2 linked regions of the Homo sapiens genome follow. The protein of the gene in region 1 interacts with the protein of each later gene in a pairwise test. Each region holds a gene or a part of one and is shown in the gene's direction. Other genes may lie near its edges.

Evidence for each region. The genes of interacting proteins can lie anywhere in the genome.
Region 2: the proteins of CARD10 (region 1) and ZNF12 interact in binary tests that used the Homo sapiens proteins (3 or more experiments, as listed by UniProt).

Annotation. Positions count from the first base shown.
Region 1 is NC_000022.11:37,505,916-37,509,415, reverse strand, and holds part of CARD10 (caspase recruitment domain-containing protein 10), read left to right. Parts: intron 1-733; coding exon 734-889; intron 890-1,461; coding exon 1,462-1,587; intron 1,588-3,032; coding exon 3,033-3,224; intron 3,225-3,500. UniProt on the Homo sapiens protein: Scaffold protein that plays an important role in mediating the activation of NF-kappa-B via BCL10 or EGFR.
Region 2 is NC_000007.14:6,693,448-6,696,947, reverse strand, and holds part of ZNF12 (zinc finger protein 12), read left to right. Parts: intron 1-3,500. UniProt on the Homo sapiens protein: Transcriptional repressor which suppresses activation protein 1 (AP-1)- and serum response element (SRE)-mediated transcriptional activity.

The DNA of each region.
Region 1 (3,500 bases):
TTGTCTGGTCTAGGGTGTGTGAGCAGCCTCCAGAAGGTCCTCAAACTCCCTAAAACTGCCCCCCTGATTTTGAGTGTGAGCATTTTTCTGGGGAAAGGGCCCCAGCTTTAATTTGATTTGTAGAGGGTGTGGCCTGGGGGCCCTAGGGCTTGCTTAGTGTCCTGCGGCAGGTCAGTGGCAGGTCAGCAGCTGCATGGGCCTGCCTCCTGGCCATTGTTCCACACAGGAAGTGGGGGATGAGAGCCAGTGTGTTTCATGGGGTTGGGGCACTTGGCTGGGGTGTGGGTCTGGGGGCAAGATCTTGGGCCCAGGGTCTACCTGTATGGGCCAGGCTCAGCCCCTTGAAGACCCCTAGTCATGGGGGTGGGAGTAGGTCTTGGGAATGGCCTCCGTCTGCTGCCCTGGATGGTGGGTGAGGGCCAGAGCACGAGTGTGTGCCTGGTGCTTGTTTAGGAATAATCCTGGGTGAACTTGTCCAGTCACACCCTTCTCCACTTAGCTTATTAGCTTACTTGTACCCCAGATACTCCCTGGAGGGTGGGTAGGGCTTGTGGGGCCACACCCACTCTGCCGATGGGGAGACAGAGATCCAGAGAGGGTCGAGGCCCCGGGCCAGCATGGCAGAGCTGGTCAGGTGGGTTTGGAGGGCTGAGAGCTGCGTGTCCCCTTCCTTCCCACACCCAGGGTGGGCCCCTAGCCAGACCCTGAGGTGGCCCTGCCCTGTGATCCCCAGGAGGCGAGCCGGCCGGGGGCCCCGGGCTCCGAGCGCATCCTGCTGGACATCCTAGAGCATGACTGGCGGGAGGCGCAGGACAGCAGGCAGGAGCTGTGCCAGAAGCTGCATGCCGTGCAGGGGGAGCTGCAGTGGGCCGAGGAGCTGCGCGACCAGGTGGGGCCCTGCCCGTGCCCTGCCCCTTGTGCGGGAGGGTGTCAGGCAGGGCCTGTGTGCTCACGCCTTCCCTGAGCATCTGCTTGACGCAGGCGCCGCGCTGAGAACTGCATTCATTTGTTCTCAGATGTTGACGGAGGCACCCTTCTAGGCGCTTGAGATGCCGCAGTGAGCAAAACAAAGGTGCCTTTTCCTTGAGGGGGAACTCCAGCAGGGGAGACTGGCAGTATGTGAGATACACAGTCCCACGTCAGCTATTTCATGTAGTCAAAGGCGATGAGCACCGTGGGAGATGCAGAGCTGGGGAAGGGGCCGGTTGCAGTTTGAGTGGGGAGGCCAAGGGTGGCCGGATGGGTGAAATGATGATCATTCTTCTCGTTTTACAGATTAGGCAGTTGAGGGCCTGTGAGGTAAAGTCAGTGGCTCAGACCACTCCACTGGGCAGGAGGGGACTTGTTATTGGGTCTCAGACTGTTGGTGAGCGTCTCTCACTGGCCCTCCTGGGCACCTGCTGGTTAGCTTTCTCATGGTCCCCAGCCCTGTGGTCTGACCCCGCCCCGTGCCACCCTCAGTACCTGCAGGAGATGGAAGACCTGCGGCTCAAGCACCGCACGCTGCAGAAGGACTGTGACCTGTACAAGCACCGCATGGCCACTGTCCTGGCCCAACTGGAGGAGATTGAGAAGGAGCGAGACCAGGTGAGCCCAGCCTGCGTGTACGAGGCCCTGGGCCAGTTGCTGCTTCCCATATGGGAGGAGACAAGGAGCAATGGAGGGGACTAGAATGGTAGAAAGAGACGTTAGCCGCTCCCTGTTGGGTTAGGACGGGGCACAAAGGCTGGGGGAACCAGACAGGAGACCTGGAGCCCTTGAGATACCAGCCTTACACCCTGGACCCACTGGCCTCATCTGAGCTCCTGTGGCAGTTACAGAAGCTGGTCCTGGTGTCTTCATTTTTGAATCCCTTGTTCTGTCCATCTCAAAGACAAGGCCAGCACAGAGGGAGTGCTTACAAATAGAAGCCGATGAAGAAATTCTCAAAAGTTTTGGCTTTCAGTCCCTGGGCACTATGACCCTTGTCTCCTGCCAAGGTTGTGGGGTGGGCTGAGGACCTCCGGCCAGTGCCACCAGGCCCCCGAGCCTCCTTGTGTGAGGTTCCATCTGCAGCGGGGAAGGGCAGGAGGTTTTTGTCCTTAACCAGGTGTGAATCCCACTAGAGGAGTTGAAGTCTGTATATTATTGTTGTTATTACTTTTTGAGACTGAATCTAGCTCTGTTGCCCAGGTTGGAGTGCAGTGGTGCAATCTCAGCTCACTGAGGCCTCCCAGATTCAAGTGATTCTCCTGCCTCAGCCTCCCAAGTAGCTGGTATTACAGGCATGCCACCATTCCTGGCTAATTTTTGTATCTTTAGTAGAGACAGGGTTTCACTATATTGACCAGGCTGGTCTTGAACTCCTGGGCTCAACTGATCCACCTGCCTCAGCCTCCCAAAGTGCTGGGATCAAAGGCATGAGCTCCCATGCCCAGCCGAAGTCTGCATATTAGAAATGCCCTCAGAATCCCCTGGCAAGCTTGAAAGTGCAAATTTGGGGCTTCATTCTCTGGACGTTCTGATTCAGGTGGTCTGGGGTGGGCCCCAGGAATCTGCATTTTATGGGGCTGCCCCCGGCTCTCTCTGAGGCATGGGTGACAGGTCTGGACCATGGGCCCAGCTCTGGAGCCCCTGGTCTTCACTGTGGATGCAGTGGGCTGGGTTTGACTCCTGGCTTCTCCACTGACTGGGATGCTGGGAGTGAAGCCCCTGGCACACAGCAGGTCTCGTGGAAAAGTTTTCAGTTCTTGGTGAAATGGTGAGAGCCTGGATTCTGCAGATGGACTGCCCGATTTGAATCCCAGCTCTGTCGCTCCTGGCTTGGTTTCCCCAGTCTGCAGAATGAGAATAATGATATTAATAGTATCTAACTTAGCCAGTTAGTGTGAAGATATTTAAATGAGCTGATAATTTAGCTCAGGGCCCGGCACACAGTGCTCAGTAAGTGATAGCTGCCATTCTCCTTACTGTCCCCATTCTCCAAGTCATAGGCCAGGAAAGCTGGGCCAAGGTGGCTCCTTCAGCTGCTGCCTCCCCTCCCCCAACCCTAGGCCATCCAGAGCCGTGACCGGATCCAGTTGCAGTACTCACAGAGCCTCATCGAGAAGGACCAGTACCGCAAGCAGGTGCGGGGCCTGGAGGCGGAGCGGGATGAGCTGCTGACAACGCTCACCAGCCTGGAGGGCACCAAGGCTCTGCTGGAGGTTCAGCTGCAGCGGGCCCAGGGTGGCACCTGCCTCAAGGTGAGCGGGTCAAGATTGTGGAGGTCCTGGCAGGAAGGCTGGGGTCCTGGCAGGAGCTCTTGGCCAGGGCTGGGAACGTGCCGGCCCTGGTGGGAGACCTCAGCCAGGGGAGGAAGCTTGGGGGAAGTGGGAAGAGTCCTCAGTTAGGGGCGGGAACTTGAACCCAGGCTGGGCTGGGTGTGGGCTGGTGAGCAGGCGGAGGGGCATGTTGGTCTCTGAGTTTCTGGGGTTGCTTCTGGGACACTAAGAATAGTTTGGAGCTGGTCTTTGCATTTA
Region 2 (3,500 bases), on another chromosome or scaffold:
AGACTGTTTCTGGACCCTGTTCTACTTTGTACTTTTCTTTCTTTGAGGTTAGACTCCAAAGTTCCCATCCTGTGCCTAAGCCAGTGGATCCTGCTACTTGTCATGTGCACCTGTGCTTCATTGGACAGTGCTGCTCATTCCTGAGACCCAGCCCTCCTGAAATTTGGTGACTGCAGTACCTGGGTCTCCCTCTTTAACCAAATGCTCGTTTTCATCTTGTTTCTTATTTTCTGTTCTGTTCCCAATGCCTTGAATGATACCCTGTCATGGCAGGTGCTTAGTAAGTATCATATACGCAAATGAAGTCTGGTTTATGCTTCCACCACCTCCAGAAATGTCTTTAAAGGGTCTGTTTCTACCTACTGTGATTTCCTCGCATTATGAGTTTCTCAAAGGGTGCCTCCAGTGCCAAGTCTTTAGGCTTTGTTTTTTATTTTATGTTGCTCGCACCCAGGATGACATCTCTACCACCATTGAGCCTGGGCTCTAGTCTGGTATTTTCTGTGATACCAGTTACAGAGCTGCTCTTGTTCTCATCAGGCCTGGAAATTGATCATGACCTATTCCAAATTATAATTACTAATCACCTTTCCACCTCCCTTTATTTACTAAACTATACTAATCTCTTCTTCTTCTATAGTGGTCCCTGTGAAACCACTGAAATTCTCATCAGATATTACTGATCTCTCTGGATTACTGGATTTTGTCCAGTGTGAAATGTCTTCATTGTCCTCTGTATATCCTCAGTTTCCTTTGACTTAATGTAAACAAAGACTAGATGCTGTCATGCTATGAGTCCTAGCTGGATTTGCAGTATGTCTTCATCTAAAGTTTCCAGTTGATATCATCGCTAGCCTCACAAGATAAGCCTATAGTTGGTTACATTTTACTTCCTAAAGGGAATTTTAATTCCTTGTCCCTTAAGGATCTCAACAATATTAGGCCTGTATTACCTGGAAAAAGTAATTTTCTGTTGTTTCCCCAAAACTCTGACTAAACTCCGTTTGGTTCACACTCCTAATGTCTTCTCTTCATGATACTATTGTCCCTACAGCTTTACATTTCATTAGGGTGTGCTTTCCTTCCCCACATAACACATTCTTTAAGTCTGACCTCAAATCTTCAACCCCTCCCTGACTTTTGTCATGACTTCTGTATCTCCCTTCCCTCGACTTCAGTTTCACCTAGGGGTGATAGGATAAAGAAGTGACTCTGATTAAGTAATCTGTTATTCGATAGTGTCTATATTTTGCTTGAGCTGTTTTGCTCTTGGATCATAGTCCTGTAAGGAAAGGGGCATGTTATCCCTTGATGTAGTGTGTAACAGAGAGAGATATTTCTTTCTTTCTTTGATTATCTGAGAAGCTAGGCAGGTGAAAGAACTTTCTTGTCCATCCATTCAGAAATAATTTACAGGCAGTTACTTCTAAATATGCATGCCTGGGCCAAATGTGGTGGCTCACACCTGTAATCCCAACCCTGGGAAGCTGAGGCAGGAGGATTGCTTGCAACCAGCCTGGGTAACATAGTGAAACCCTGTCTCTACAAAAAAAAGAAAAAAGAAATAATGCATGCCTGGGTCACATCCCCATATATTTTGCAAGTAGTGGAAAAATACCTATATGATTCAGATTAAGAACAGCTTCTCTGATTTTTATTCAGAGGTTCAAAGGAAATAGGAAATAGGACCATCCTTCCTAGGAGAAAGGTTGTGGTTAGGAAAAGAGAACAAGGGCTGGGCGTGGTGGCTTACGCCTGTAATCCCAGCACTTTGGGAGGCCGAGGCGGGCAGATCATGAGGTCAGGAGTTTGAGACCAGCCTGGCCAATATGGTGACACTCTGTCTCTACTAAACAATTAGCCAGGCCTGGTGGCGCATGCCTGTAGTCCCAGCTACTCAGGAGGCTGAGGCAGAAGAATCCCTTGAACCTGGGAGGCAGAGCTTGCAGTGAGCTGAGATCGCACCACTGCACTCCAGCCTGGGTGACAGAGCAAGACTCCGTCTCAAAAAAAAAGAGAACAGCGCTGCATGAAGTAATTAAAACTCAGCATTTTACATGGAGTGCTGATGTTCCAATGCAAGGCTGAGTCACTTTGTATTAAAATGATTCTATAGACAGTATTCTCAACTTCAAGGGGAAATGGAATTGAGGTGAGAAAGGATTTGAGAAGTATTTTTTTCAAGCATGGAAATCCCCTACAAAGGTAGGTTTTGAGAAGATGAAGGCAGGAAGTCAAGCAAACTGAGTGAAACAATAAGGGTGGAGACTGTAGGTGAAATGTGCTGGGCATTGATCAGGCACACAGTGATCGTAGCATAAGGCAAGGATAAGAGATAGATCATGACCTATCTCTCCCAGCTTGATGTGACATGAGAAGGTGTAAAGTGCAGACCCACTTCCTCCAGAACAACTCTCTACTTGGACTTATCTTAGGAACCTCCTTGTGCAACAAATAGCTTGCTTTTCCTGCAACGGAATATTTTTGTTAGATGACTGTCATCCTAGCTTGGCAGCATATAGTGATCCCAGGTGGTGAAAAGTATTGTCTCTCAGATTTTTTTCTCATTTGATCTGTTGATATTTTGGCAGTGGGTTCAGGGAAAGCACAGGTTATAGGGGTTACGGTTGATATCGTTTCACTTAATGTGCATGATAGCAAGTACAGTAGTCAGGTTCATCCAGACACTTCTAAGGTAAGTAAAAATAAAATTGTTATTTTAGGAGCATGGTAAGGGATCTGATTTTGTTTGTTTGTTTTGTTTGTTTTGTTTTTTTTTTTGAGACAGATTCTCACTCTGTCACCCAGGCTGGGGTGCAGTGACACAATCTCGGCTCACTGCAACCTCCACCTCCCGGGTTCAAGCGATTCTCCTGCCTCAGCCTTCCAAGTAGTTGGGATCACAGGTGCCCACCACCACGCCCGGCTAATTTTTGTATTTTTAGTAGAGCAGGGTTTCACCATCATGGCCAGGCTGGTCTCGAACTCCTGACCTCAAGTGATCCGCCCGCCTCAGCCTCCCAAAGTGCTGGGATTACAGGCGTGAGCTACCACGCCCGGCCAGGGATCTGATTTGTAAGGTTTGTACACTAAATGCTACTCAGGAGTGGGAAAGCACTCACACTGAGAATTAAGTGATGGTAGTATGTCAGGGTGGGTCTGGCTTAAGCAAATGGTCAGGAGATTGAAAGATGGGAAGAATAATTGCTAAGCTTATCAAGCATGTGTTTTGTGCCAGATGCTGCTCTGAGCACTGCATTAACTGCTGCAATCCTACAACCACCTTATGAGGTAGGTGCCATTATCTCCATTTGGCAGATGAAGGATACTGACTACAGAGAATTGCTAAGTAGCTTGCCCTAGGTCACCTCACCAGAATTCATGCTATTAAATATACTGTTCAAATAGGAACAAGTAGAATTTCATGGTCAGAATGAGTTTAGCATTAAATCATAGCATCATTAGAATACTGAAGTTTCCAGTTGATCTCATCGCTATCC